Linked DNA regions of Homo sapiens. The protein of the gene in region 3 interacts with the protein of the main gene of each other region in a pairwise test. Each region holds a gene or a part of one and is shown on either strand. Other genes may lie near its edges. The genes, in order: GOLGA2, MSS51, SNX18 and HSF2BP.

Evidence for each region.
Region 1: the proteins of SNX18 (region 3) and GOLGA2 interact in binary tests that used the Homo sapiens proteins (3 or more experiments, as listed by UniProt).
Region 2: the proteins of SNX18 (region 3) and MSS51 interact in binary tests that used the Homo sapiens proteins (3 or more experiments, as listed by UniProt).
Region 4: the proteins of SNX18 (region 3) and HSF2BP interact in binary tests that used the Homo sapiens proteins (3 or more experiments, as listed by UniProt).

The regions. Positions count from the first base shown.
Region 1 is NC_000009.12:128,266,008-128,273,007, reverse strand, and holds part of GOLGA2 (golgin subfamily A member 2), read left to right. Parts: intron 1-142; coding exon 143-223; intron 224-4,483; coding exon 4,484-4,588; intron 4,589-4,847; coding exon 4,848-4,891; intron 4,892-5,010; coding exon 5,011-5,074; intron 5,075-5,490; coding exon 5,491-5,550; intron 5,551-5,733; coding exon 5,734-5,814; intron 5,815-6,682; coding exon 6,683-6,721; intron 6,722-6,987; coding exon 6,988-7,000. UniProt on the Homo sapiens protein: Peripheral membrane component of the cis-Golgi stack that acts as a membrane skeleton that maintains the structure of the Golgi apparatus, and as a vesicle thether that facilitates vesicle fusion to the Golgi membrane.
Region 2 is NC_000010.11:73,430,522-73,438,236, reverse strand, and holds the start of MSS51 (putative protein MSS51 homolog, mitochondrial), read left to right. Parts: upstream 1-4,675; 5' UTR 4,676-4,724; exon of another isoform or gene 4,725-7,715.
Region 3 is NC_000005.10:54,541,730-54,547,097, forward strand, and holds the end of SNX18 (sorting nexin-18), read left to right. Parts: intron 1-1,449; coding exon 1,450-1,703; 3' UTR 1,704-4,857; downstream 4,858-5,368.
Region 4 is NC_000021.9:43,628,468-43,635,507, reverse strand, and holds part of HSF2BP (heat shock factor 2-binding protein), read left to right. Parts: intron 1-2,086; coding exon 2,087-2,236; coding exon of another isoform or gene 2,237-2,245; intron 2,246-5,053; coding exon 5,054-5,186; intron 5,187-7,040. UniProt on the Homo sapiens protein: Meiotic recombination factor component of recombination bridges involved in meiotic double-strand break repair.

The DNA.
Region 1 (7,000 bases), on a different chromosome or scaffold from region 3:
GCCATGGTATTGATCTCCTCCACTCTTCTTATTTCATTTCCCTGAACCCACATCTTCCTCCTTCCCTGACTTTCTTGCCTCTCTCTAAGCCACTTCTACCTTTCTCCCCCTGCCCTTGTTTTTCCCTTTTCGCCTCCTGTAGATTCAGGACATTCTGAAGGTGCTGGTGTCCGACCTTAACCGTTCCAATGGGGTAGCGCTCCCCCCATTGGACAAGTGGAAGGTGAGGCAGTGCCGAGACCCCTCTCTGGCTTGCTCTCTCCAGCTGTGCATGCCCCTGAGGCTTCTCTGGTTTGGGGGATACTTTGCCTCTGGCTTATTTTATGTTGCTGCCATTAACCTTCCGCCTGTTTATGTCCGCTTCTTCACCTGCTTGATTGATTGGGTTTTTATTCTTCCCCCAAATCTTTTATCATCTTGGAGAAGGTGAGACATATCTTAAAGTTTAAAAGTTTAAAGGTAATTTGGGAATAACTTTTAGAGCAGGTGTGTGGGATTTGGGGCTTTTTTTTTTCTTCTTTTTTTTTCAGAGACGGAGTCTCACTGCCCAGGCTGGAGTGCAGTGGCACAATCTTGGCTCACTGCAACCTCTGCCTCCTGGGTTCAAGTGTTTCTCCTGCCTCAGCCTCCTGAGTAGCTGGGATTACAGGTGCCTGCCACCATGTCTGGCTCATTTTTGTATTTTTAGTAGAGATGGGGTTTCACCATGTTGGCCAGGCTGGTCTTGAACTCCTGACCTCAAGTGGTCCACCCACCTTGGCCTCCCAAAGTGCTGGGATTACAGGCGTGAGCCACTGCTCCCAGTCTGGGATTCTGGGATTTGGGCTTTTGAATGCCCAGTGTGGGTACTCTCAGACTAGGAGAGATGAAAAAAAAAAAACACAAAAAAACCAACAGACCTTTAGGTTTTACCCTAAAGGCAAAGATCAGTAAACCACCTAGAAGTTAGTGTTTTTTTTTTTTTTTTAAATTAATTCACTTTGGTTTAAGAGTAGGGAACAAAGGGTTAAAAGAAAATGAGTTCACATTATAGTTGGAAGGATTGAAGCTATTTTTTCAGAGGAACTAACTGTAAAAGTTGTGAGGTTAACCAAACAGATGAGTGACCAAGACGTTCTGCCCCTAATCTCTCCAAATGGACATTTAGCCATATTCATTGGGCTCTTGACAACAAAGGCACTTTGATAAATAAACAGTGGATAAAATAGATGAACAAGGTAGGCTGCACACCGAGGGAGGCAGACTCCTCTGAAGGAGGCAAGAGAGAATTTTGGAACATTCCAAATGCTCAGCTCGGGGGGAGGTTGGTTCCAAATGGACTCCAGGCTGGAGAAGGTGGCATTTGAAGCTGGCTTGAAGATTAAAGGTGGGTAACATTAATCCATATGGGGAGTGGGGGAGGCAGGGGGAGCGGTGAGGCCGTGGCCAGAGTGTGAACTCACAGAGCACCTTTCAGGAACACAGGGAGCCTGGTGGGGGGCAGGGCATGGAGGTACACAGGGCTGGGAGACAACCTCCTCTGGCTGTGATTTGGCATTTCTTCCATCTCTAACTCACCTGGGGGACTCCTTCCTGCCAAGCCAGAGGAGCAGGGCACGAATAGAGCCTGATCCTGTTGGAGATGGGTATGGGGAGAGGGACTGAGACAGAGCAGCCTTGGCTGCTGTTAGAGAGTTGTCCAGTCTCATACCTGTTACCCTCCAGTTGATCAGGTCTGTCCAGGTGCTGTGACTCACCTTGCCAGCTCAGAGGAGACGCTGAGTGGTACGGCTGGGGAGCACAGGCTTAGAGGTGACCTGCAGCCAAAAGCATTTGGCTTTTGCTCTGCCAATGGTCCAGTGGATTAGGGGGTCTTCAGCCTGTTTCCTAATGCTCTGAGATTCTGTGCCAGCCCAGGTCCCTCTATTCTGGAAACAAAGGCCTAGATCCCCGTATTTCCTTCTTGCTGTTTTGTTTTTGTTTTTGAGAAAGAGTCTTGCTCTTTCTCCTGGAGTGCAGTGGTGTGATCTTGGCTCACTGCAACCTCCCCCTCCCGGGTTCAAGTGATTTTCATGCCTCAGCCTCCCAAGTAGCTGGGATTACAGATGTTGCACCATCACGCCCGGCCATTTTTTTTGTATTTTTAATAGAGATGGGGTCTTGCCATGTTGCTCAGGCTGGTTTCGAACTCCTGGCCTCAAGTGATTCACCTGCCTTGGCCTCCCAAAGTGCTGAGATTACATGTGTGAGCCACCATGCCCAGCCCCTTGCTGTTTTTATACCTTCTCTATATCCGTAACTGTTTCCAATGTAGGTTTTGTTTTTTTTTAATTTCTCATTTTTATTACCATGTAAGTTTTCTACTCCAGGAATGCAGGCCTGTGATCGTAGTATCCTGAGCGGAGCTGATAACATTTCCAGAAGTAGGGAATAATGGAGAGAGAAAAAATATCTTAATGGGATGGGACATTTTGAGGAGAGTAGGCTTTTTTAAAAACTCCATCTTGGCTACAAGACTTAAAATAATGAAATAACTTGGTTGCTCACAAAATAATCATGCTATGTGTGTCAGAAAGTCCTCAGAAAAATGCTTTTTCAGCCAAGTGCAGTAGCTCATGCCTGTAATCCCAGCACTTTGGGAGACTGAGGAGGGTGGATCACCTGAGGTCAGGAGTTCGAGAGCAGCCTGGCCAACATGGTGAAACCCCATCTCTACTAAAAATACAAAAATTAGCTGGGCGTGGTAGCGTGCACCTATAATCCCAGCTGCTTGGGAGGCTGAAGCAGGAGAATCTCGAACTCAGGAGGCGGAGGTTGCAGTGAGTGGAGATCTCGCCACTACACTCCAGCCTGGGCGACAGAGTGAGACTCCCATCTCAAAAAAAAAAAAAAAAAAAAATTCCCTTCCTCTGAGCATTCTTGTGTCTAATCCTAGAGATCAGTGGGAACCGAAGATGCCAGGAGGGCCCTAAAGCCTAGCAGGGTCCATTGCTAGGAGTGCCAGCCTTCCCTCAAGGCTAATGCCTGGCCAGCAACTGAACCCTTGCTCTGACCTATTAGATTCAGTTGTAGGCATTGTCAAGGAAACACCAGGTTCCATGGTCACAGTAAACTTGCAAAGATGCAAAGGCAGCTTGGCTCATCTTCAGTTCCACCAGCCTCTGCAGCACTTGCTCTAAGGAGGGAAGCAGATTTGGGTTTTCAGAAGCCAGGGCTGAAGGGTCCAGTGAGCGCGCAGTCCTTTCCCTGGAGAGAGGTGTAGTCACTTCTCCCAGACCCAGCTTCCGTGGCCAGGCCCTGGCTCCCTGGTGTTTTTCTCTTGTCCAGCTTAGCTGGTCAGCCAGCTTTTTCCACTGTCTGCCCATCTGGCTTGTCAGATATTAGAAGATCTCTAGAACCAGAGGCTTGGGCGAAGAGTAAGGTCAGAGCCTGGAGAGAGGCTGGGTGGGGCTCTGATCAAGCAGGTAGGTCCAGTTGGGGGCAAGGGAGAGGCTCCACATGACCCCAAGTTCTGAATCCTAGGATTGTCCTCAGGTACTATTCCCAGGAAAGAGGCCCTACAACTTCCAAGTTGCCAAGAGCCACAGGGAAGATGTCTTACCTCTGTTTTCTTGGGTGGTTTCTTGGCTGGGTAGATGTTTTTGGAGGTAAGAGGTCGGGGTGGGGGTGTTGGCCATGGTTTATCCTCTTTTTACCTCCAGAGAGTTGGAGAGAGTCTTCTAGTTGGGCAGCTTTTTTTTTTTCCCCCTGAAAAGGCCTGAATCAGAAACACAGCCAGTAGGCCAAGTGCAATGGCTCACACCTGTAATCTCAACATTTTGGGAGACCAAGGTGGATCACTTGAGCCCAGGACTTTGAGACCAGCCTGGGCAAGATGGCAAGACCATGTTTCTATAGAAATTAGCTGAGCATGGTAGTGTGCACCTATAATCTCAGCTACTAGGGAGGCTGAGGTGGGAGCATTGCTTGAGCCCAGGAGGTGGAAGCTGCAGTGAACTATGATTGTGCCACTGCAGGGGAGAAGGGAAGGGAGGAAAGGAGGAGACAGGCAGATAGCTACATTGTGCATTGCCCAGACAACTACTTCCTCATCACCATCCTCTGCCCAGTAGGGGCCCAGTGAGGGTCACTCTGCAGCACAGACTGGCCTTCTGGAAGAACAGTGCCTTTCTCCTCCCTGACTTTGGCACACCTTCCTCCTGCCTGCTGTGGCTGCCACAGGTCAGAGCCTGCTGCTGTCTTTTGCTGAGCTCCAGGGAGAGCGAGGTCCTCGTGTTCATGAAGGAGGCCGTGCAGCCCCTGCTTTGAGCTTTGGCCATCTGAAATGCTGCCTAGCAGCCCAAGGCCTGGGCAACCAATCCACACCCCTGAGTGGCTCCTAGCATGTGTGACTGTCACTCTGACTGCAGCAACACCTGTCCTACCTGTTCCACACCCTTGTGTTCATAGTACTGAGGCACCTCTCCCGCATGGCCCCCTAACCCCCTGCTCTGTTCTGTGACAGACACCCAAGGACAATGCTGCTACTCTACAACCATCTGATGACACCGTGTTACCTGGCGGTGTCCCTTCCCCTGGTGCCAGTCTCACTAGCATGGCGGCATCTCAGGTTCGTGCCTCCTCCCCCTCTGCCCACTGCCCTCCTGTACCTATTATGCATTATCTTCTCCTTTCACAGGCAGCTTGTTCCCTAGGGTCAAGGGCCCTTCCTGGGGACCGGGCCGGGGGAAGGCTCAGACTGGGCTTTTTTCCTTGAGGCCTGGGGAGATTGAAGATTGTTAGAATGAGTTTGGGAGCTTGACTCACCCCATCCTGGGTGATTCTTACCAGAAATTGAATGACCATCTCACACGTTTCTTCCCAAACAGAATCATGATGCTGACAATGTCCCTAATCTCATGGATGAAACCAAGTGAGTGTCTCCTGTTGGGGCAGCAGTCTCTAGGCTGAGAGAGTCAGGGAGGCCACTGCCCATGACCTTCTTTCCCATTGAGCCACCTGCACCCCTGACCCCTGTGTCTCCATCCCTAGGACTTTCTCATCAACCGAGAGCCTGCGACAACTCTCCCAACAGCTCAATGGTCTTGTTTGTGAGGTACCTCAGGAACTGAGGCCGAGAGCGGGGTGGGGGGAAGGGAACTATGATAGAAACTGAAGCAGGGATTCACAAGAGAGAGGGAAGATCCTGGGACCAGCCAATGTGCTGGGCAATGTTAAGGAAGTCGCCTTTTCCCTGAGCCTTCTCCCTTGAAGTTGTGCACATGAAGGAGTTGGACCCCATGACTGGTTGCATCATTGTATCCTGCTGCAGAAGCACTGGATGAGAGCTGCTCGGGAGGAAAGGATGGTGGGGAAATAAGAACCATGAGAGAAGTTGGCACAAAGGGGTTACGGGACAGAGGGTCCAAGTTAGAAAAGAAAATGTTGCCAATTGCTGGGGAAGAAACGAAGTTAGAGGGCTTAGACACTGAGGGGACAGAACATCTCCATGTGCACTCTCGTCTCTTATAGTCTGCGACATGTGTCAATGGGGAGGGCCCTGCATCGTCTGCTAACCTGAAGGATCTGGAGGTAAGAGGCCCTGGGCCGTGGCCCAGTGACCCTGCAGGCCAGCCCTCCAACCTCCTCCCACAGCGGGGGCTGGGTGCCCCTCTGCCAGCTGAGACAGCCCACACACCCCCCAACCCTAATGATTGCTCTCTCTACCTCTCCCCCCAATCCTCCTCCAACTCCTCCTCTCTGCATGCGCCTCAGAGCCGGTACCAACAGCTAGCGGTAGCCCTGGACTCCAGCTATGTAACAAACAAACAACTCAATATCACGATAGAGAAATTGGTAAGAGTCCAGTGGGGTCCCCTGATTCCATGCTGCTAATCCTGGGCTCCAGTTTCCCCTTGGGACCCTGAAGAAAGGGGCAGGGGGCCCCTGGTGCCAAGGGCGAATGGGGAGCTGGGGGGCCCAGGCCTCAGCTGGAGGGACCCCAGAGCACGGAGCATGCAGCATGGCTCTTCTGTTGCTGCCCTCTTTGCCTACTCTCTCTTCTCTAGACACCCCTGCTCGAGTCCTTGCCACACACGCCCTGGGGTTGTTGCCTCTTGGGGAAGCGCTAGCCTGACTGGTTGTCAGGAGCCCTGTATTTCTGCCCTGACTCAGTCCTTAATTTGCTCTTTGATTTGGGACAAGCCACCTCTCCTCCTTGGGCTTGCATTTCCTGAGGAGGTAGAGTTAGAGAGTATCAAAGGTCTCTTAGCTCTGAGAGTCCAAGATTTAAAGGCCCATTAGAATGTAAACCTCAGGGCCAAGGGCTCCTGTCTGTCTTTTTCTGTCTGGTATCCCTGCTATTAAGAACCGTACCTGGCCTGTGTGTGCTCAGCAAATGTTTGTTGAATGATTACACCTTTCTAAATCACAAACTGGCAGAGGGTGGGCTTTTCTCACACTCCATCTCTAGAGGTTTATGTTACTGTCCTTTCAAGAGAATCGAGATTCAGACTTTCAGTTCTGTGGCTGTGGGCAAAAACCAACAAAGACACAAATCCCCTTTCCTTGAGAGCCTGAGGAGAGTTTACCAGTTCGTGTTCCCATTGGGTCTGAGAACTTTGCCTTTAAAATCCATTCCTGGCCCCTGCCTACCCGTTCCTGGTCTGGGGAATAGAGTTGAGGGGGCCACCCTCAGTCACCTTCCTTTGACTCTTCCCCACAGAAACAACAGAACCAAGAAATTACGGATCAGTTGGAAGAAGTAACGTGATTTCTTTGTTTGCTCACAACATGACTGCTGGGTTTGGGGGGCATTCAAATGTAGAGGCCTCAGTCTCGTCTCACCCACTCCCAGCCTGGGGAAGAAGGCTCACCCCCCCAGATTCCACCCCATCCCCACAGGGTCCCTGATAACCTGGTCCCATGGGTGGGCCTGTCCTGGGACATTGGTGGCATTCTGGGGGCATGTCCCTTGCTGTGCCGTCTCTGCCTCCCCCTCGTAAGAGCTCTGTCTTCCTCTTCCTATAGGAAAAGAAAGAAT
Region 2 (7,715 bases), on a different chromosome or scaffold from region 3:
TACTTCCCAGGGACTCTCACATCTCGGGCCCCAAATGGACAGATCACCCGAGGAGCTGGAGGGGTCGGCCAAGCTGACTGTAAATTTCACAGTCTCTCTGAAGAAACCATTGTGCTTCTGAGACCCTAGCCCCCTTCCTGGATGGAGGCTTGAGGGCCCTGGGACATGTGCTATCTGATAAGATTGGGTCATCGCTGCCAAGGTGGAGAGCAGTGAGCAAGGGGCTTGGGGCAATTTCCAGTGGAGGGCATCCACACCTCCATTTTATGCTTGTGGTTCACACATTTAAGTTTACAAATCAGATTTCTTTTCCCCTTCAGTAGAATTAGATTTTGTTTTTCAATCATGATTTCAAATGCAATCCTAAGAGCTAATGTGGACTTTTCTTTTTCCATGAAATGTCTTTAAAGGATGAATTAGCATGGTCTTAAAATACATTTCTGAGGTTACTAGCTGTATTTTGAATTGTGAGCAAAATGCCGAGAAACCCAGTTGGCATTTATACAAAATGTTGACCTCAGGTCTATAGTTCTTAAATGTGGCTAATTCTGTAACATAGTCTTGGTATTTTTTAATTATGAATGCATATCCTATTTCCAGGCAGGCTCTCTTACTTGAACACAAATCCAAAAACTAATTTAGAGTCTTTTTTGCCCAGATCTTTTAAGACTTACACCCCAGAGATTTAAGAAGAAAACCTCTAAATTTCAAAATTATGAAGAATTACAGAATTACTCATTTAAGGTACTTTAAAAGAAGTTTGTACATTGTCAAAGTAAATTTTAATTCAAATCATGTCTGTAAAACTTGACGTATTTTGTGTATGCATGTTTTCATTTTGCAAATATTTAATATATAGACCTATGATGTACAGGTACGACATGTATAGGTTACCTAGATGTTATGAGAAATTTTAGTTTATTGTGAGTACTCAAGTTGCTTAGAGAGCCACCAGGGTGATTTGCTGCTGGCTTTCTATCATTTTTATGTTTTAATGCAAAGGAAATTTTAAAATGTTCTGGAAGTGTTTTTGATTAAGCAATGCAGCCTAGAAGCAATGGTTCTGTTCAATCATTCAGATGTTAGTGGAAGCATAAAAGTCAAGACTGCATGTTGAAACCTTTCTTTTGATAGTTACTGAACTGCTTGGTTAAACTAAATGGAACCATGTGCTAATTTTTCACAATTATTGACCTGTATTGATTGCCACTGTAGTTTGGTATTTCCCTTTACTTTGGTGGCCTGCTTCCCTCATGCCCTGGAATACAACTCAGAGCTCCAGGCAGCGGAACCATCTATTGTTTTGTTTGCCAGAAAGTGCACCCTGTATGGTCTCCTGTCTAAGTTGGAAATATTATGCATGTGCAGGACTATTCGAGTATTTTATAAACAGTAGCACACAATAAATTCCATGCATGGGCCGCTGCTCCTATCTCTGTGTTGGGTTTTATTTGGAAGATGCAATCTGATTTGTCCTTTTGATGCAAATCAGAAAATCCTGTTACTAGAGCTGGGATGTCCTCCGGAGATTATCTCGTGGATAGTTCATGGTAATTTGATTAATTAAATTCTTTATAAATTTTGCCTTAAAAAAAACTTTTGTTATATACTTGTTTTACATGAGCATTAGTAACTGAGCACTAGAGGACTTTGAATGCCTACTGTAGGCCTCCTAAGTCTAATATTTAAGATCACTGTTTATTGTCTTTTAATTGAAAGAAAATATGTTATTGTCTAGAATTTTGTTATAGTGGTATTGGGAATTTACTGGGTGTTCTAACAATAAGAAAAATATTAGTGATAATTGCATTTTCCTATCATTCCTTTCTTCTTTGTCATAATCACAATAAGTATAGGATTTTGCACATTGAGGGATATTAGGATATTGCTCAAAATTATATAATCATACAATAACTTGAATTATAGTTCTCAACAATAATTACAATGAGATATATTATAAAACACTAAGTCAAAATATAGGCAGGGCACAGTGGCTCATGCCTGTAATCCAAACACTTTGGGAGGCTGAGACAGAGGATTGCTTGAGCCTAGGAGCTCATGGTTGCAGGCTGTGTTGAGCTATGATTGTACCACTGTACTCCAGCCTGGGTGACAGAGTGAGACCCCATCCCTTAAAAACAAACAAAATATATGTAAATATATTAGGCAAGCGCACACACACACACACACACACACACACACACACACACACACACACATGCTTGCCTAATTCCAGGTAACAAACAGAACTTCTCAAATTGTTTCTTTTTTCTTTTTCTTTTGCTTTTTTTTTTTTTTTTTTGAGACGGAATCTCTGTCTGTCACCCAGGCTGGAATGCAGTGGCATGCTCTTGGCTCACTGCAACCTCCGCCTCCTGGGTTCAAGCAATTCTCCTGCCTCGGCCTCCCAAGTACCTGGGACTACAGGTGCCCACCACCACGCCTGGCTAATTTTTGTATTTTTAGTAGAGATGGGGTTTCACCATGTTGGCCAGGCTGGTCTCAAACTCCTGACCTCGTGATCCGCCCACCTCAGCCTCCCAAAGTGCTGGGATTTCAGGCGTCAGCCACTGCACCCGGCCACAAATTGTTAATTATTATAACTCTCTGCTTGCCAAAATATTAACTTACAAAGCAGTCCATGAGTTGGCTCTAAAGTTATTATGCATTGCATACCTTAAAGATTGTTGTCTATGTTGTTTATGAAAGTTGCATACCTTAAAGATTGTTGTCGATGTTGTTTTATGAAAGCTATTCAGTAAAGAGTTTATCTGGCTAAAATAGACCCAATAGAAAAATTAAAAAGTAAGTAAGAGTTTAACTAGTATATTAGGTGCCAGGAACTTTCCTAGCCCTTAGGTACATAACTAGCATTATATAGTGTTTGTGGGAATCATGGGTGAGCATTAAGTAGTATTAGCAAAAAAACTATGGATTGATGGTAAAAATTAAGAGGAAAATAAGAGAAAGGAACCAAACTCAGGAAAAGCAAAATACCTGAAGAGTGATAAAGTATCACATAGTGCCTCACAGACCACTTCCTACATGTTGAATAGGAACCTCTTTCTAGTCTTTCTTCATAATTCATTTCACAGCATACCATTTATTAAGATTTTTTAAATGCAACTCATGATGAATACAAATTGTGAAAAGTTCAGACTTCGTAACTTTAAATGTTTACCAGAGCAAGTCATAGTGATAGTAAAATATAAGTATTCAACATCAAAGTTTTTCTATATTACTATTCTCCTTTATATTCATTGACAACTTCTGAATTAGAAAAGTCAATCTCTGATGTCTTGTATCTTCTGCAGTTCAGCCATTATTAACAGAACTCAAAACATTTGAGGTTCTCAGATAAATTTTGAAGCCTGTTAAATTTGAAGTTGGCCTGAAACTTTTGCACAAAGTGAATTACCCCTATTTTATTTAGGGTTTTTGCCTATTGCAACTGATTTTCCTTTATCCACAGCTATTCTACATAATGTTATGCAGTGTTTGGTTGAATCCTTAACACTTTTCTTCCACCTTCCCTGCATGTAGTTTGTACTTTTTACAGTTTGGGGTTCCTGTGTGGATTTGATTTGCCACATTCCGGGACCTCATTGCGAGTGATTCTGTTCCCCAGTTTGATGATGTTCAAAGAAGCAGGTAAGTGAGAGCTGGGGTCAGATATAAGCAGAAAGTCAGAACTTTTTTATTTAAAAATTTTAAAAAAATTTTTTGAGGGTAAGAAAGATCTTGCAGTCTTTTAGGACCACTGCCCTAACAACTTCAGATAGGCTAGCTGTAAGTAGAAAGAAGCTAGGACTGTGGAATTGAATTTCCTGGATCAGCTGCAATTACAAGGAGGATAAGAGAATGGTTGAGCTGATTCTTTTCTATTTTCTTTTCCTAGAAATAGTATGTATTTTTAGTCATTAACTAGTATTTTGGTTTTGTTTAATATCCCAGAAGCATTTATTCCTCTCTTAATACAGGTAAAGTGCTCCTGATGACTCTCTCACTCAGAGAGTTATCTTACCCTTCTTTCAGGGAAAGTGAATTTTACAAGTTAATTCTGCATGTTTCCCCTACAACTGATTTCATTCTGTACCATTAAATGGCCATTTATTTTCTCCCTTCTACTTAATCCAAGATTGGACATTGTTGAGTTTTGTTTGAACAATGTTTGTTATGCTGAAAAAGGACACCAGGCCTGGGGGAACTCATCCTGTGTCTAGATCAACAAACAGAACTCCAGAGGGTCCTCTGGTTCCTCCCACTTGGTTGGAAAGGTGCTTACCCTTTCCAATCAAATATTGACTTCTGCACTAATCCAAAGGGTTTTCTTCTGAAGCTGTAAACTGAGAACAGAAATATTGCCTTGAGTGAGAGAAGTCTAGGAAGCAGCAGGTTTCATTTTTTGTCAGCCTGCCTGGCCTTTACTTGGCTAACACTTGGGAGTGTTGACAGTCCTGAGCCCCCTTGGCAGAGAACAAAGGTTAGAGAGAAGCCCTCAGGCAGGGGGACAGATCCCTCTTTGCCTCATTAGGGAGAATTCAGCCTTGTCTGTCTGGTTGGCAGGGCACACTTAATCACTGAGACTCAGCATTTCAGCAGTTTGCAAAGGAAAGTGATATGAAGGGACAGCTGCAAGTAAGCCACAACCTAGATCTGAAGAGATCAAGCACTCATTTCACTTGGAGGAAAGAGAGAAGGAAGGAAGCTGAGGACTTAGCAGGGTAAGTTTTTTTTTCCGTCAACCTGTCTGCTTGCTTAGTTTATAATTGAGTAAAGTATTTATCACCCCAGGCAGTGTTAATCACTGATTAAACAGCTGAATGTGGCCATAATTACAGTGTCCTTAATGTATTTCTCCTTCTCTTTTCCTACCCCCTTATAAGGATCTCCAATGACCAGTTTCAGTCTTCCTTCTCCCTACCTCTCCAAAGACGTTTTGCATTTTTTGGTGACTTACAGAAAATTAGATGAGCACTCCTTATCTGGAGATAGTGAAAATATGACTGTAGTTTAGGTGAAACTTGGGACTCTTGGTGGTAAAGAAGAAGATGGGAAACCTAGGTCTAGGAATAGATTAATATTTTGTCTTGAATTTGGACATGAAGGATAAAAGTTTTTCTAGGCAATCAAGATCATGTCTCCTCTCCAGTTCTTGGTGTTGGTGTTCTCTCTCTTATACTGGGACTAAATTAGAGCCTAAGTCACTGGGGATGGCTAGAAAAAAATGAAAGGGATTCCCTTTCTAAGTGGAGAGCATTCTAGACTCTGGAAAGTTCAAAGAGCTTACTGCAATTCTTTCCAGCTTCTCCTGTGAGTCCCCTGTTTTTTCCTTTGTTTCTCTCAGTTTATAACCTGTGAACAGGGAGTAGCCTGGGGCTCTTTACAGGAGATTTAGAACCAGGGAAGCTGTGTCTGGGCCTGGGGTATATAAACTCAAACATGAACCTGATGATGTATATAGATGCAGATCAAAGACCTGGCTTCTCACCCACCTTCTTTCTTTTCTGCCAGAAAGCTAACTCATTTGTATCATGAACATTGTGCTCTAGACACAGAGGAGACTGTGACATTAGGGATTTTTACCACCACTCCTCTTCCTCAAACTGTGTGATCCTTTTGCTTTCTGACCAGTTCAGCCAACTCCCAGATTGCCAAGAGCTAATCTTCCTTTAGAGGAAGACCTCACCTTGGAAATGCGGAAAAGTAAAGCAGTACCTTTCTGACCTTAAGTGGCTTGCTTCCATTGCAGCAAAAAGGCTTATGTTTTAACTTCAGGGAGATATCTATTATAAATTCTGGGATTTAAGACCCTAGAGTTGTCTCAAATCACACTTTCCTTCCATACCTATTTAAAAAAAAAAAAGTCATTCTTTCAAGGTTTAAGAAAGTGGTGTCTTGGCCGGGCGCCGTGGCTCATGCCTGTAATCCCAGCACTTTGGGAGGTCGAGGTGGGTGGATCACGAGGTCAGGAGTTCGAGACCAGCCTGACCAACATGGTGAAACCCCATCTCTACTAAAAATACAAAAATTAGCTGGGCATGGTGGCGCGAGCCTGTAATCCCAGCTACTCAGGAGGCTGAGGCAGGAGAATCACTTGAACCCGGGAGGTGGAGGTTGCAGTGAGCCAAGATCGCACCACTGCACTCCAGCCTGGGTGACAGAGTGAGACTCTGTCTCAAAGAAAGAAAGAAAAAGAAAATGTTATCTTGCCTGAGGCAGGTGGGTAGAGTAGATAAATGCTTTTTGTAGAATGGCAGTGATTCTGAAAATGCAATGAGAATGTGAGGTGATTAAAAGTGGAGGACAGAATGAGGTTAGTTGTTGGAAATTGGGCCCTAAAGTGTGAAGGGCAATTCCATTTACTCTTTTGGTAAAAGGACATGACCCTTAAACCCTAAGATAATCTAATATCATTAGGTCCAATTTCTTCATTGAAGGTAATATATAGGATATGGTATACAGATGAGCTTGACTATTTCTGTTCTGTGGACTGAAACCATCCATTCACCCATGGGATAAGGGGAGACATTAAGAGGGTGGATGGAAACATAAGGATGAGGAGATAGAAAGTACAAAGGAAAATACAAATTTGTTCCTCCATTAACCTGAGGACAGGTTTTTAAGAGTCATGTTGTAAGATATGGATATGAGCTGGATAATTCTGGGAGCTTTTTGTTTATTTTTGCCACCTGCATACACCTCAGCTGCATGATGATTCTGAGGTTTTTCCTAACAGATCTGATCTAGAAGGATCAAATGTCAGATCATTTTTGTAACAAAACATGATCCCTGGTTTGAACTTTAACAGTTTCCTCATTCACACTGCCAGCGTTTTTAATCCTCTGTTATTTCTCTGTACCTGAAGACAATCTGGGGATTAATAACTTTTTAGCCTCTCAATCTCTATGAATACCTTCCTTCCTTTCTTTTTTAATCGAAGTGAAAATCATATAACATAAAATTAATAATTTTAAAGTGAGCAATTAAATGGCATTTAGTGTATTCACGGTATTGTTCAACCATCAATTTTGTCTTGTTCCAAAACATTTTTATCACCCCAAAAGAAGACCCCATAACCATTAAGCAGTTACTCCCCATTTTCCCTTCCACCCAGCCCTTAGCAACTACCAATCTGCTTTCTGTCTCTGGGTTTACCTATTCTGGATATTTCATAGAAATGGCATCATACAACATGTATACAACATTTTGTGTCTGGCTTTCTTCACTTAGTATAATGTTTTTTGAAGTTCCTCTACATTGTAGCGTGTATCAGTATTTCATTTCTTTTTATAGCTGAATAATATACATCTTCATATGTATATTTATATCCCAATTTGTTTATCCATTTATCCATTGATGGACCTTTGGGTTGTTTCTACCTTTTAGCTGTTGCGAATAGTGCTGCTATGAACATTCACATATAAGTATTTGTTTGAGTATCTGTTTTTAAATATTTTGGGCACATACCTAAGAATGAAATTTCTGGTTATATAGTAATATTATGTTAACTTTTTGGGGAACTGCCGTACTGTTTTCTATGGTGGTGGCACCATTTTACATTCTCACCTGCAGTGTACGAGGGTTCAAATTACTCCATATCCTCATCAACACTTGTCATTTTCTGTTTTTTTTTTTTATAATAGCCATACTAGTGGGTATGAAGTAATATCTCACTGTGGTTCTGATTTGCATTTTCCTAATGACTATTGAGC
Region 3 (5,368 bases):
TGTGCACACCTACACGTACATATATATGGATGAAATTTGCTGTTGGTGCTTTTTCATTTCTCAGGTCTTTGAACTATGCCAAAAAAGCATACTGCTTTACGTTTAAGGGTTTTGTTTAATATTATATTATTCTTTAGGAGATTTGAAGAAATTTAGAAATAGGGCATCTTCCCTTGTATATTTCACTATTGGGCAAAACAACATTTCCGAAACAAAGTCTCTCAGTTTCTGTACCTCCTCCTACTCAAGGTTCCTGGTTCCCTCCTCAGTAGTACTGTGTTCTCAGACTGCCAAGCCAGGCACTCTAGCTGTTTGTCTCTGTGTTCTGTCTTGCCTTTCAGTATGGTTTAGTGGAATGAGTGCTAGGCACAGTCGGGAAATCTGAATTCTTAAGCTGGCTTTGTTCAAGTGATTTGAGCTTTATTACTACTCATTCCTAAGAACTCAGGAATAGCCTATTTCCTACCCCTAAACATCCTCAAACTTTTGTGTCTTTGTATGACTGTGCTTTCGGGGGAGGGCCTGCGTTCGTATGGCACCTGCCGGAGTGGTCAATCCTTCACCCCCACCCCTGCAACACCCTCTGTTGATACTTCTAGGCATGAGATTATGGAACCGCTGGCATCATTCCTAAGTCATCATTAGGGCAGAGTTAACACTCACCGATCCTTATAGTCCCAAAAAAGGGGCAAATTCTTATTAAAGCCCTTGTACTCCAGGTGTGGGTCTCCCGATGCAACGTGAAGTCAGAATCAGACATGTGTTCGCAATTCACCCCTTCACCAGGCACTTTCTGTGTGCTGAGCACTTCAGCTAGGTGTTTACTCTGGATGACAAGATAATGGGCTAGGCCAGCCCTCATGAGGGTGACCTCCAATTGTAGACTGGCAACATTGCCAAGCACCCTCCATGACTGTGACATGATTCCAAAACACAACCTGTGTTGGTACTAACTTGTTTCAGAGACTGGTTCTAGAGTCTGAATTATTTAGTGAGACTTTCTGAGGAAGTGGGTTTGGATCCTTTATGGGATGTTTTTATAAACAGTATAATTCTCTTAATATATGTGGAAATAATGATGTCACACCTTTTGAGCCTGTGAAAACTGCAGTTTCTTGTTGTGTCTTTTTAAGGACATTTCCTTGCAGTTTATTATCAGTTATGTATAGCATCTCTACTTGGAAGAGATGGGATACTACAGATTCTTGGTCAATGTAACAAACACTAGTTTTTGAAGAGAAATTTTAACAAAGGGAGTGTTTTCAGAAACTTTACCAGATTCCTTCTTTTTTTAAAATGAGTAATTATGGTCCTCACTTTAAATTTCAAAGGTATTGAAAATAGTTTGGGCAACTATTTATAATGCCCAAGATTCTGTTTAATATGTAGTTATGTTCTTGGGATATGTGGATATATAGGTTTTTAATTAATTGTTATTTTTAACTACAGGAGCTCTTACCAAAGTCAAGGAGAGTAGGCGACACGTGGAGGAAGGGAAGATGGAGGTGCAGAAGGCTGACGGCATTCAGGATCGCTGTAACACTATTTCTTTTGCCACTTTGGCTGAAATTCACCACTTCCATCAAATTCGAGTGAGAGACTTTAAATCACAGATGCAGCATTTCTTACAACAACAAATAATATTTTTCCAAAAAGTTACCCAGAAGTTGGAAGAAGCTCTTCACAAATATGATAGTGTTTAATGACTGGACGTTGGATTATGGACTTTTTCAGTTCAAGGATAATTTCTACAGCAGAATAAAAACTGCTGTCAAAGAGCTATTGCCAGCTATCAGTGGTGGTACAAGGACGGTTTTGTGTTCATCTGAAACCCAGCTGAATTTATAATTATGTAGGAAATAAACAGTTAATATGGTTATATAATAGAAACAGTACCACACATTGTAACTAAATTATACTATGTATGCCTACACTACCATTGTAACTTTTGGAATAATGATTATACTATTTGCCTTATTGCTTTTTGAAGTATGGGTATTTTAGTGCATACTTTGTAGACCTCAAAACCCATGAAGGGTCTCAAAGAAGCTGGCTGGATACAAGCCTGCTGTGGATGCCTTTTTACTCTCATAGATTGGGATTACCTAAATTCAACCTATTCTCTGTTTACAAACTCCAACTAGAGCAGCTATGCGACCTTGTGCCTTTAGACTCTTGGTTTTTCATTTCTCCCCGTCCCTTCCCCACCTTTTTAAAGTAAGCCACAGCTTTTCTGATTGAAAGAGTGAAAGGCCAGTGCATATAATGACAAACTGATGATAACCTTATATTGGCAGTAGGGGGTGGGGGGGGCGGTGGGGTGGGACGATCAGCTGTCATCAATTTGCACAGCAAGTATTATCTCCTGATAAGATGCTGGTGAATGCAGGGGAGTGAGATTCATTGCTCATCTTTGGATATGAAGTCTGTTAGGGAAGAAACAGTGCCACTATTCCCTTAGATGCAACAGTAGCATAGCCTCTTCACCCAGGCGTCCCAAAAGCTTGGCGTGAAGATTTCAGCAAACATGTCTTACAACATGAGGAGGAGGAGTCTAAATCAGTCAGGGGATAAAAGTATCGAATCATTGACAACACACACTTGGCTTTAGTTCTTAGGAGGGTTTTGTTTTTGTTTTTGTTTTTAGGTTGAAGATTTTCTTTTAATATTCAGTTTTTTGAAAAAAAATGGATCTACACTGTTAACTGATTGAGACTCCACTGTGATTCACTTGTTTACTTAAAAACTTTTCAGGGATGTCTGTAAATTTCAGTGTTAATATGTCATGAAAAGTGGTGTGGATTGATCTAAGGAGGGACCAGAAATAATTTTTGCTATTCCAAATACTGAAGGAAAAAGATAATTGATTTATACTATGTTTTAAAAAAAAAAAAGGTATTGATGAGCCCCCCCCCCCCAGGACATTTAACCTTAAAATTTATTTTAAATGTATTCTTTTATTATTATAAGGGAAATACAGATGGCTGATAAATACCAAAAAGATTCAAAAGCAGCTTAATTTAAAAAGCACAAAGAGATTCTGGCTTACAGTGCCCCAATCTCAATGTTTTTATAGTTGCTGAGCTAACTAATGTGATTATTGAGTTTACAGATTTAAAAATTGTCACTGTTAGAGTATCTACTGTTTTTATGAAGTCAAACTTATGCTGCCTCAGAAATCCCTGGGTACTGAAATGGTAACATGGAAGTGAAGAGGTCACTTTGAAATATTGGTGAGTCACAAAGATTAAAGAAAAGGATCAGTTTGCAGATACTCAGAAAAGGTTATTGAAATAATTACTGAACAGCACATTTTCTCTCTAAAAAGTAGTTTCATATGGGTTGTATTTTTAAGATCAGATTATCATTTTGATATTTGGTCAAAATTTTGTACCTTAGGTTACTTAGAGCCAGATTTAACATCATGAACATTATGTGGCTTTGTCTTTACTACAGATATGTGGAACTGTAACCAAATATGTTGTCTCTAAAACTTGTTGATTGCAAAATACAGTTCTATAAACAAAACCCATATGTATATATAAATGTTAATTTTGCGGAAGTCTGGAAATTATAACTATAGCATTTAAGTTTGAGTCTGTATTGGACAAATAAGCACCATGCTTTTCAAATGATTTAAAAATTACTTTTATTTGCCTCTTTATTTTGATGGTGGTTGGATTTTTTTTTTTTTAATAGTAAAATCACTAAACTTGTGCAATGGTAGCATGGAAATTATCTGAGGTATATTGTATGATTGTACTTTAGCCAGGGTGGACATAGCTTAAATTATAAAAACTAAAGATGAAAGTACAAGGAAGTATAAGTTATACTTATGTAAGTATAAATTCATGCTGCCTACTTCTAAGAGAAATTTCATTCTTCATAACCACATAACATTATAATGCCACTGATTCATACGGGATTTACATTAATTCTATGGGGGAGGACACTAGAATTATTAGTGTTCATTTTCATCTAAGATCTTTATTCTCTAACGTTCTTGGTCCTATTGAAACATTGCAGTATGCAAAACTACTGCAATGTTAAACCCAAGAGAAAAGCCATTATCATGTGTATGCTGGTCATCATGATCAGTGTGGTACAATTTTTAAAAATAAACTATCATGCCCTTCATGCCATTATTTGTCTTTATTTCTATGATTTATAATCCTGATATGTGATGTGTTTGTAACACAGGGTGTGCACTTGAGCCTGGTTTTACTGTTTTTATTAGACAGAGTTGTTTATATGCTGTAACTGTAACGCAGCGAGACTGGTTCTACAGCCATGTGTCGTAATCTTGTTCCCCGTCCAAGCTGTTGTATCTGAAGGTACCCAGTTTGCACCCAGGATGAGGGAACGCATTCAAAAGTGAAATGTAAAGCCAGTGCACGAATATTATAGTAATTGAGATTTTCCCAGGCTTCACTGATACAGTTGTTTTGCATTTATTCACAATAATACAGCAGATTCTTAAATGCCGATTTTTAATTGTCTTAAATTTTGCTGCTGTTCTCATAATTAAGGACTTGAAAAATGTTTTAGTCTGTCAAGTATGTAAAGTTTGTGTAAAAACTTTTAAATGTCATTCTTAAGTTCATTGCCATAGCCATTTTCCATTTATGTCTTCATTTTCCAAAAATCAAATGCCATGTCTGATACCTTTAAGTCCATAAGCATTCAATTTTCTCATTTCCACCTTCATCTTTGGTTAACAGAATAAGTAAAACAGGGTATTATTTATTTGTAGTCTAGAAATGTTGAATATTGTTTTATTTCCTTCAAAATGTTATGATTAGTGCAGATCAGCCATGTTTATCTTTTTAAAAAATAAACAGGTTGCTTTATTTCTTAGCTTCAATGGAATATAATTATTTTTTCTCCACTCATCAAGGAGGCATTTATTTAATGTGAAGAATTACACAGAAAAATAGAAGAGCATGTTCTGTCTTGAGCTTCATCTGCAGTTACCATAGAAATTATTCATCAAACACTGTAGCTAATTTGATTAATTTAAAACCATCATCATTCAGATAGTCCCATGGAGTATCTGCTTCCATTAGTGACATCAGGAATTAAGCACATAGCAGTAAGTTGTGAGTGAGAGGTTTTGAAATAATAGCTCCCATGAGTCCAATACCTGAGACAGAAGCAGGTGCTTAAGTAAAGTACTTGACATACTGTCTGTTGGTTGCCATAAATAGGCGAACTCCAACACACATAAGCCAAAATATAATAGCTACGGGACCTGGCATATCTTGCAAGGGGCCAAAGTCCCATTTGGCAAAGCTTGCCCTCTTTGTGGGGCTTTGTAGTCTTGTATCTGCTTATCTTTACAGATTTGTTTTACATATATGTTTTTTCT
Region 4 (7,040 bases), on a different chromosome or scaffold from region 3:
TCAGTGTTTCACTGATCTATATGTCCATCCTTATAGCAATACCACAATGGTTCTATTTCGGTAGGTTTATAGTTAGTTTTTTCCTCTAAATCAGGCACTGTTAGTCTTCTAACATTGTTCTTCTTTTTCAGACAATTTTTTAGATATTCTGTCTTGAATTTCCATAGAAATTTTAGAATCAGATTATCACTTTGTACAGAAGTCTGCTGAGATTTTGATAGGGATTGTGTTGAATCTGTAGATCAGTTTGGGAAGAATTGACATCCTGCCAATTTTTGAACATGGTGTATCTCTTTATTTAGCTCTACTTTCTCTCAGTAATGCTTTGTAGTTTTCATTGTATAGGTCTTGCACCTTAAAAAATTATTCTTATTTTTGATGTTACTGGGAATGCTATGATTTTCTTTGAGGTTTGTTTGTTTTTTTTTTGATATTATTATACTATGTGTGGAACCCTGCGTTGGGGAATATCCTCCTGCAACTACCAAATGTGACTGTAGTGAGCAAAGTCCTTCCTGGTTCTTCTCAGTAGTCTTTTTGTGGTCGTGCAGAAGAACCACCATATCCTGACTAATTGAGATGCAGACAGCTTAAGTTGTGAGAAAAGCTAGAATTCCAAAAGGAAGTGCTGTGACATAGTTTTCTTCATGTGTCACCATGACTTGTGTTCAGCTACGTACACTGAAAGGATGAATCTAGGAGTCCAGATTGTTGCTATAATGAAGACATTAAAAACCCGGAGCTGACAGATCACATGATGCAGTATTAGCATGTGCCAGAGGCTCAGTGGCCATTTTTTTCTTAAATACATGTGTGCATATACGTATGAATGTGTATGAATCTCTGTGTGCCAAACGCATTGTCTCCAGGTAACTATGAGTGGGCCACCCTAATCCAAGTTATGAGGTCAACAGTTTTGATTTGTGGCTCCAAAGCTCCCTTTTTCCTCCAGGGGGTGAAAAGCCCCCTCTACTTTGTCTTGTATTTATCTCTCTAAAAGAAAATCTACAGCATTTAATATACTTTAATTTTGTGGTTTATGTAACTAATTACATTTGGTATAAATGAATTTAACTGGGGTTTTATATTTTTCAGTTTTTGTCTTATTAAATCAGGAAATGCTATCACCTTTTAAGGGAATTTCAGGTACCTGGTGCTGGTGGTTGGAGAGGACAGGAAGCCCCCCATCACTCTAGCAGTACACTCAAGGTGAATCCTCGAAGTGTGCTTGTGTTGTCAGGAGGGCCATCAGGACGGCCATTCCCTGTGTTTCCCTTGTGAAGAGTGCCATGGTGGAGACTTGCCCAGCTACAGGTCACCTCAGACACTGCTGGTGGGAGAGTAGGAAACTCTTCCTAGCCTCCATCTTCTTCTTAGACTGGCACTGGCTTGCTGCACCAGGGCATGAATAGGACTCCCAGCCTTCACACTTCTTTTTGCCCCTCCTCCCATCTTTCCTACCTGGTCTTAGGTTTTAGGTTTTCTTTCCCTGTTTAGCTTCACAGATTGTATTTTATATTTACTGGCACCTTTGGCAATATTCTCATGAGGAGTTAAGGATACGTTTATACAGGATGAGTTTTTCTAAAGTACTTGTTTTTTTACAAATCCTGATGTCCAAGTGCCTTTTATTTGGTGTCTGCCTCTGGCAGATGGCGTTTTTTCAATGGAGTGAGCCATTTGGAGGAGGCAGTCTCCTGTCTTAGAAATGTTGCTTTCTGGGTAAATTGCTTTGTGAGGTTGTTTTTGTTCAGAAGCCTCGGTTGGTGCTGGTTCTGGGTATAGTTACTTGGGGCTTGAGATATTTCATGTAGTTACTTAAAGCAGATGAATTCAGCTCTGTGGGTTTATCAACCATAATGTGGTAGTATGTTCTTTCCTCAGATATTTCTCAAATATTTTTGCCTTTGAAATTTCTTTTGTAGATACAGATTATGGTTCTCTTAGGACTAGCTTTCATTTGCAACTATTTTCTATAATTATACATGCATTTCTTTAATAAATATCTTTGTGAAAGAGGAAATGTAATAAAGATATATCAAGGTTGAATGCTATTATTTATTTTTCAATTTTGTTTTGCTTTTAGGAGAAACTGGCTCTTCGACAGCAGTTGAATGAAGCGAAGCAGCAACTCCTGCAGCAGGCAGAGTATTGTACAGAAATGGGAGCAGCAGCGTGTACCCTCTTGTGGGGTGTCTCCAGCAGTGAGGAAGTCGTCAAGGCCATTTTGGGAGGAGTAAGTATGGTCAGTGGGCTCTCCAGATATTGTTGATTACTGCTTGTGTAAATTAGAGCATATAGCTTATTAAGGCATTTAAAGACTAAGTCCATATCTTTCCATTTTCTTTTGTTCACTCATCAGCTAGTTATTGAATACTTATCGTATATGGTTCATTGTAACCTGATGCAAAGGGAATGAAATAAGATCCCTTCTCTCCAGGAGACCTTGTGGTATATGTGGACATATTACCACTTCAGTATTAATACTTTACATGTGTTTAAGAAGATCAAAAGTGCTTTTATATATATTATCTCATGGTTAATATAGTATTTATTGAATATTGTGTTATCTAACATATATACATGTATGTAGATGTGTGTGTGTGTTTATACATACACACACACACACATACATATAGATGCAGAACCTTGAGCAACATGGAGGTTGGAGGCGCTGACCCCCTGCACAGTCGAAAAGCCACATAGAACTTTTGACTCTCTCTACTGTTGGCTGGAAGCCTTACTGACAACATAAATCGTTGATTAACACATTTTTTGTATGTTAGATCATCATGAAGGTCTTCCCCCTCATCATCTTCAAATTGAGTAGGCTGAAGAGGAGGAGGAAGAGGAGTGGTTGGGTTGGCATTGCTGTCTAAAGGGTGGTAGAGGTGGAGGAGGTGGAAGGGGAGGCTGGAGCAGCAGACACACTTGGTGTAACTTTTACTGAAGAAAATTCTTGTGTAAGTGGACCTGTGCAGTTCAAACCCTTGTTTTCAAGGTTCAACTGTGTGTGTGTGTGGCAGCGTGTGTGTGTGAGCATGTGTGTTTGAGCATGTGCATGTGTGTGTGACTGTGTGTGTGTGTGGGAGCATGTGTGTGTGGGGGAGTGTGTGTGTGTGGGGGGGGAGCGTGTGTGTGTGGGAGCGTGTGTGTATGGGAGCATGTGTGTGTGGGGGAGTGTGTGTGTGGGAGCGTGTGTGTGTATGTGGGAGCCTGTGTGTGTGTGTGGGGGGAGCGTGTGTGTGGGGGAGTGTGTGTGTGTGTGTGTGAGCCTGTGTATGTGGGATCGTATGTGTGTTTGTGTGGGGGAGCATGTGTGTGTGTGGGGGAGCGTGTGTGTGTGAGACTGTGTGAGTGTGTGTGTGGGAGCGTGTGTGTGTTTGGGGGAGCGTGTGTGTGGGGAGAGCGTGTGTGTGTGTGGGAGCGTGTGTATGTGGGAGCGTGTGTGGGGGGGGAGCGTGTGTGTGTGTGGGAGCATGTGTGTGTATGTGGGAGCCTGTGTGTGTGGGAGTGTGTGTGTGGGGAGCGTGTGTGGGGGGGGAGTGTGTGTGCCTGTGAGCCTGTGTATGTGGGATCGTGTGTGTGGGAGCGTGTGGGTGTGTGGGAGCATGTGTGTGTGTGGGAGCGTGCACACGCACATGTATGCATGCGTGCAGGCATTTGTCAGGGAACTTCACAGAAGGGGATAAATTTGAAATGGGCCTTGATGAATAGGTAGAAATGGCAGAAAATGGGTGGGTTTGTTTTAGGACAGTGAGTAGGTCAGTTGACACAGTGGAGAGTTAATGTCATAGAGTAGTGGGGAGGTAAAGCTTAAACGTAGGTTGGGATGTGACTTTGGGACCTTGAATACCAGGTTGGTGATTCATTCTGTAGGTGGGAAGACTGGATTTTCCCTAAGGGTTTTTCAATAAAAGTGATAGGATAAGAGCAGAATTTTAGAAAGATTCACCTGACAGTGGGTGAGGATGGATTAGGAGGTGGAGTTGTGGCACATCGCGTCTACACAGGATGACTGATGAGGTGGTCATTCTAGCTGGTCTGGCTGGAGTGAGCTCGGCCCTCTGCAGGGGAGATGGGAAAGAAGGAACATGTATGAGAGCTGTGGCAGTTGAGGCAGATGCGATGGCCGGGCAGAGTGGGCACCTGGAGGGGACAAGAGGAGCCAAAAAAGATCGGTGTTTGACTCTGGGAGCATGGCGTGATCATGACTGGAAATGAAGGTGAAGAGGGGGACGTGTGGCAGGAAACCAGTGAGAAATTAGTTACTGCTAATAGAAATAACAGTTGTGTTTGACTTTAGGTGGAAAGACTAAATGTGTTTTTAAAAGTTTGTTGAGCTTTATTAGGTTTAATTTACATACTGTAAGATTGTAAATGTACAATTTAGTGGTTTTTAGCAAATTTTTAGAGTTGCATTAACCATCACCACAACCCAGTTTTAGATTATTTGATCATCCATGAAGTTTTCTTATATCATTTGTAAATGCAAATATTTCCAATTTTTTAACTGGGTTAAAATGTACATTGGTTTTAAAATTCTTCTTCAGAACTCTAGCACCCCAAAGGAAGTAACTCAAAGGTTCAAACTTGGAAATGCTTTTTGCCAAGTGATGAAGATTTAAACTACCAGAGGAGCCAGTCTTTACCTCTTTTACATGTTTTCATTAAGATTTTTTTTTTTGAAAAAAGTTATGCTAAAGGTTTGAACACCTCTGGTTTAATGCCCAGAGCAAATAGGCAGCATGTTTTTCTAGTATATTTTTATTACATTTTGAGTGAATTCTTCCCATTTACTTTCATCATCATGTACATTTGTCCTATATCATATTTATGCGTGTGAAGAGTCCACCAATCTTCAGGGTAGTTTTTGTTGCTCCTGCATGCCTCAAGCTGCTTTCTCTGTTCTTTTAATGGGAACTTTTAATGAGGGAATAGATTTTACAATATTCTACAATTAAAACTAGAATCTTCTGTATCCTGCACTTTTAAAATGTTTTCACACTAGTGTCTGTAAAAAGATATGACACTCTGATTTTCAAACTTTCAGGATAAAGCTTTGAAGTTTTTCAGCATCACTGGTCAAACAATGGAGAGTTTTGTGAAGTCGTTAGACGGTGATGTCCAGGAGCTGGATTCGGATGAAAGTCAGTTTGTTTTCGCTCTGGCTGGAATTGTCACGAGTAAGTGCAGGCGCACCTGAGAGATGTTGCCTGTTTGCTTCCAGACCACTGCAGTAAAGCAAATACTGCAATAATACATGAGTCACATGAATGTTTTTGGTTTCCCAGTGCATATACAAATTATGTTTACACTATACTGTAGTCTGTTGTATGTACAATAGCATTATGTCTAAAAAATGTACAAACTTTAATTAGAAAATTCATTATTGCTAAAAATGCTAATGATCATCTGAGCCTTCAGCAAGTTACAATTTTTTGCTGGTAGAGGGTCTTGCCGTGATATTGATGACTGCTAACTGATCAGGGTGGTAGTTACTGAAGGTTGGGGTGGCTGTGCCAATTTCTTAAAATAAGGAACAATGAAGTTTGCCACATTGATTAATTCTTCCTTTCATGTAAGATTTCTCAGTAGCATGTGATGCTGTTTGATAGCATTTTTTCCACAGTAGAACATCTTTCAAAATTGGAGTCAGCCCTCTCAAACCTTACTGCTGCTTTGTCAACTAAGTTTATGTAATATTCTGAATCTCTTGTTCTTATTTCAACAATGTCTTAGCATCTTCACCAAGAGTAGATTCCATCTCAAGAAACCACTTTCTTTGTTCTTCCATAAGAAGCAACTTATCCTTTTTTTCTGCCACCACGTCTGTAGTTACTTACTCCACTGAAGTCATGAACCCTTCAAAGTCATCCATGAGGATTGAAATCAACTTCTTCCGAACTCCTGTTAATGTTGTTATTTTGACCTCCTCCCATGAATCATGAATATTCTCTTGTTGCCCAGGCTGGAGTGCAACGGCGTGATCTCGGCTCACTGCAGCCTCCACATCCTGTATTTAAGTGATTCTCCTGCCTCAGCCTCCCAAGTAGCTGGGATTACAGGCATGCGCCACCATGCCCAGCTAATTTTGTATTTTTAGTAGAGATGGGGTTTCTCCATGTTGGCCAGGCTGGTCTTGAACTCCTGACCTCAGGTGATCTGCCCACCTCAGCCTCCCAAAGTGCTGGGATTATAGGCATGAGCCACTGCGCTTGGCTGAATCATGAATATTCTTAATGGCATCTAGAATGGTGAATCCTTTTTAGAAGGTTTTCAGTTTACTTCACCCAGATCCATCAGAGGAATCACTGTCTATGGCAGCTGTAGCGTTATGAAATGTAGTTCTTAAAAAAAATAGGACTTGAAAGTTGAAATTTCTTTTTGATATATGAGCTGAAGAATAGGTATTGTATTAGCAGGCATGGAGTCAACATTACTTTCCTTGTACCTCTCCATCATGGCTCTTGATTGACCAGGTGCATTGTCAATGAACAGTAGTGTTTTGAAAGAAATCTTTTTTTCTGAGCAGTAGGTCTCAACAGTGGGCTGAAAATATTCAGTAAACCATGCTGGAAACAGGTGTGCTGTCATCCAGGCTTTGTTTTTCTATTTCTAGAGCATAGGCAAGAGTAGATTTAGCATAATTCTTAAGGGCTCTAGGATTTTCAGAATGGTTAAATGAGCATTGGCTTCAATTAAAGTCACCCGCACCATTGGCCCCTAACAAGAGAGTCAGCCTGTCTTTTGATGCTTTGAAGCCAGGCATTGACTTTTCTCTAGCGGTGAAAGTCCTAGATGGCGTCTTCTTCCAATAGAAAGCGACTTTGTCTACATTGAAAATCTCTTGTTTAGTGTAACCACCCTCGGCAGTGATCTTAGCTAGATCTTCTGGATAACTTGCTGCAGCTTCTCCATCAGCACTTGCTGCTGCACGTTGTTTTTATGTTATGGAGACAACTTCTTTCCTTAAACCTCATGAAGCAACCTGTACTAGCTTCCAGCTTTTCTTCTGCAGCTTCCTTACCCCTGTCAGC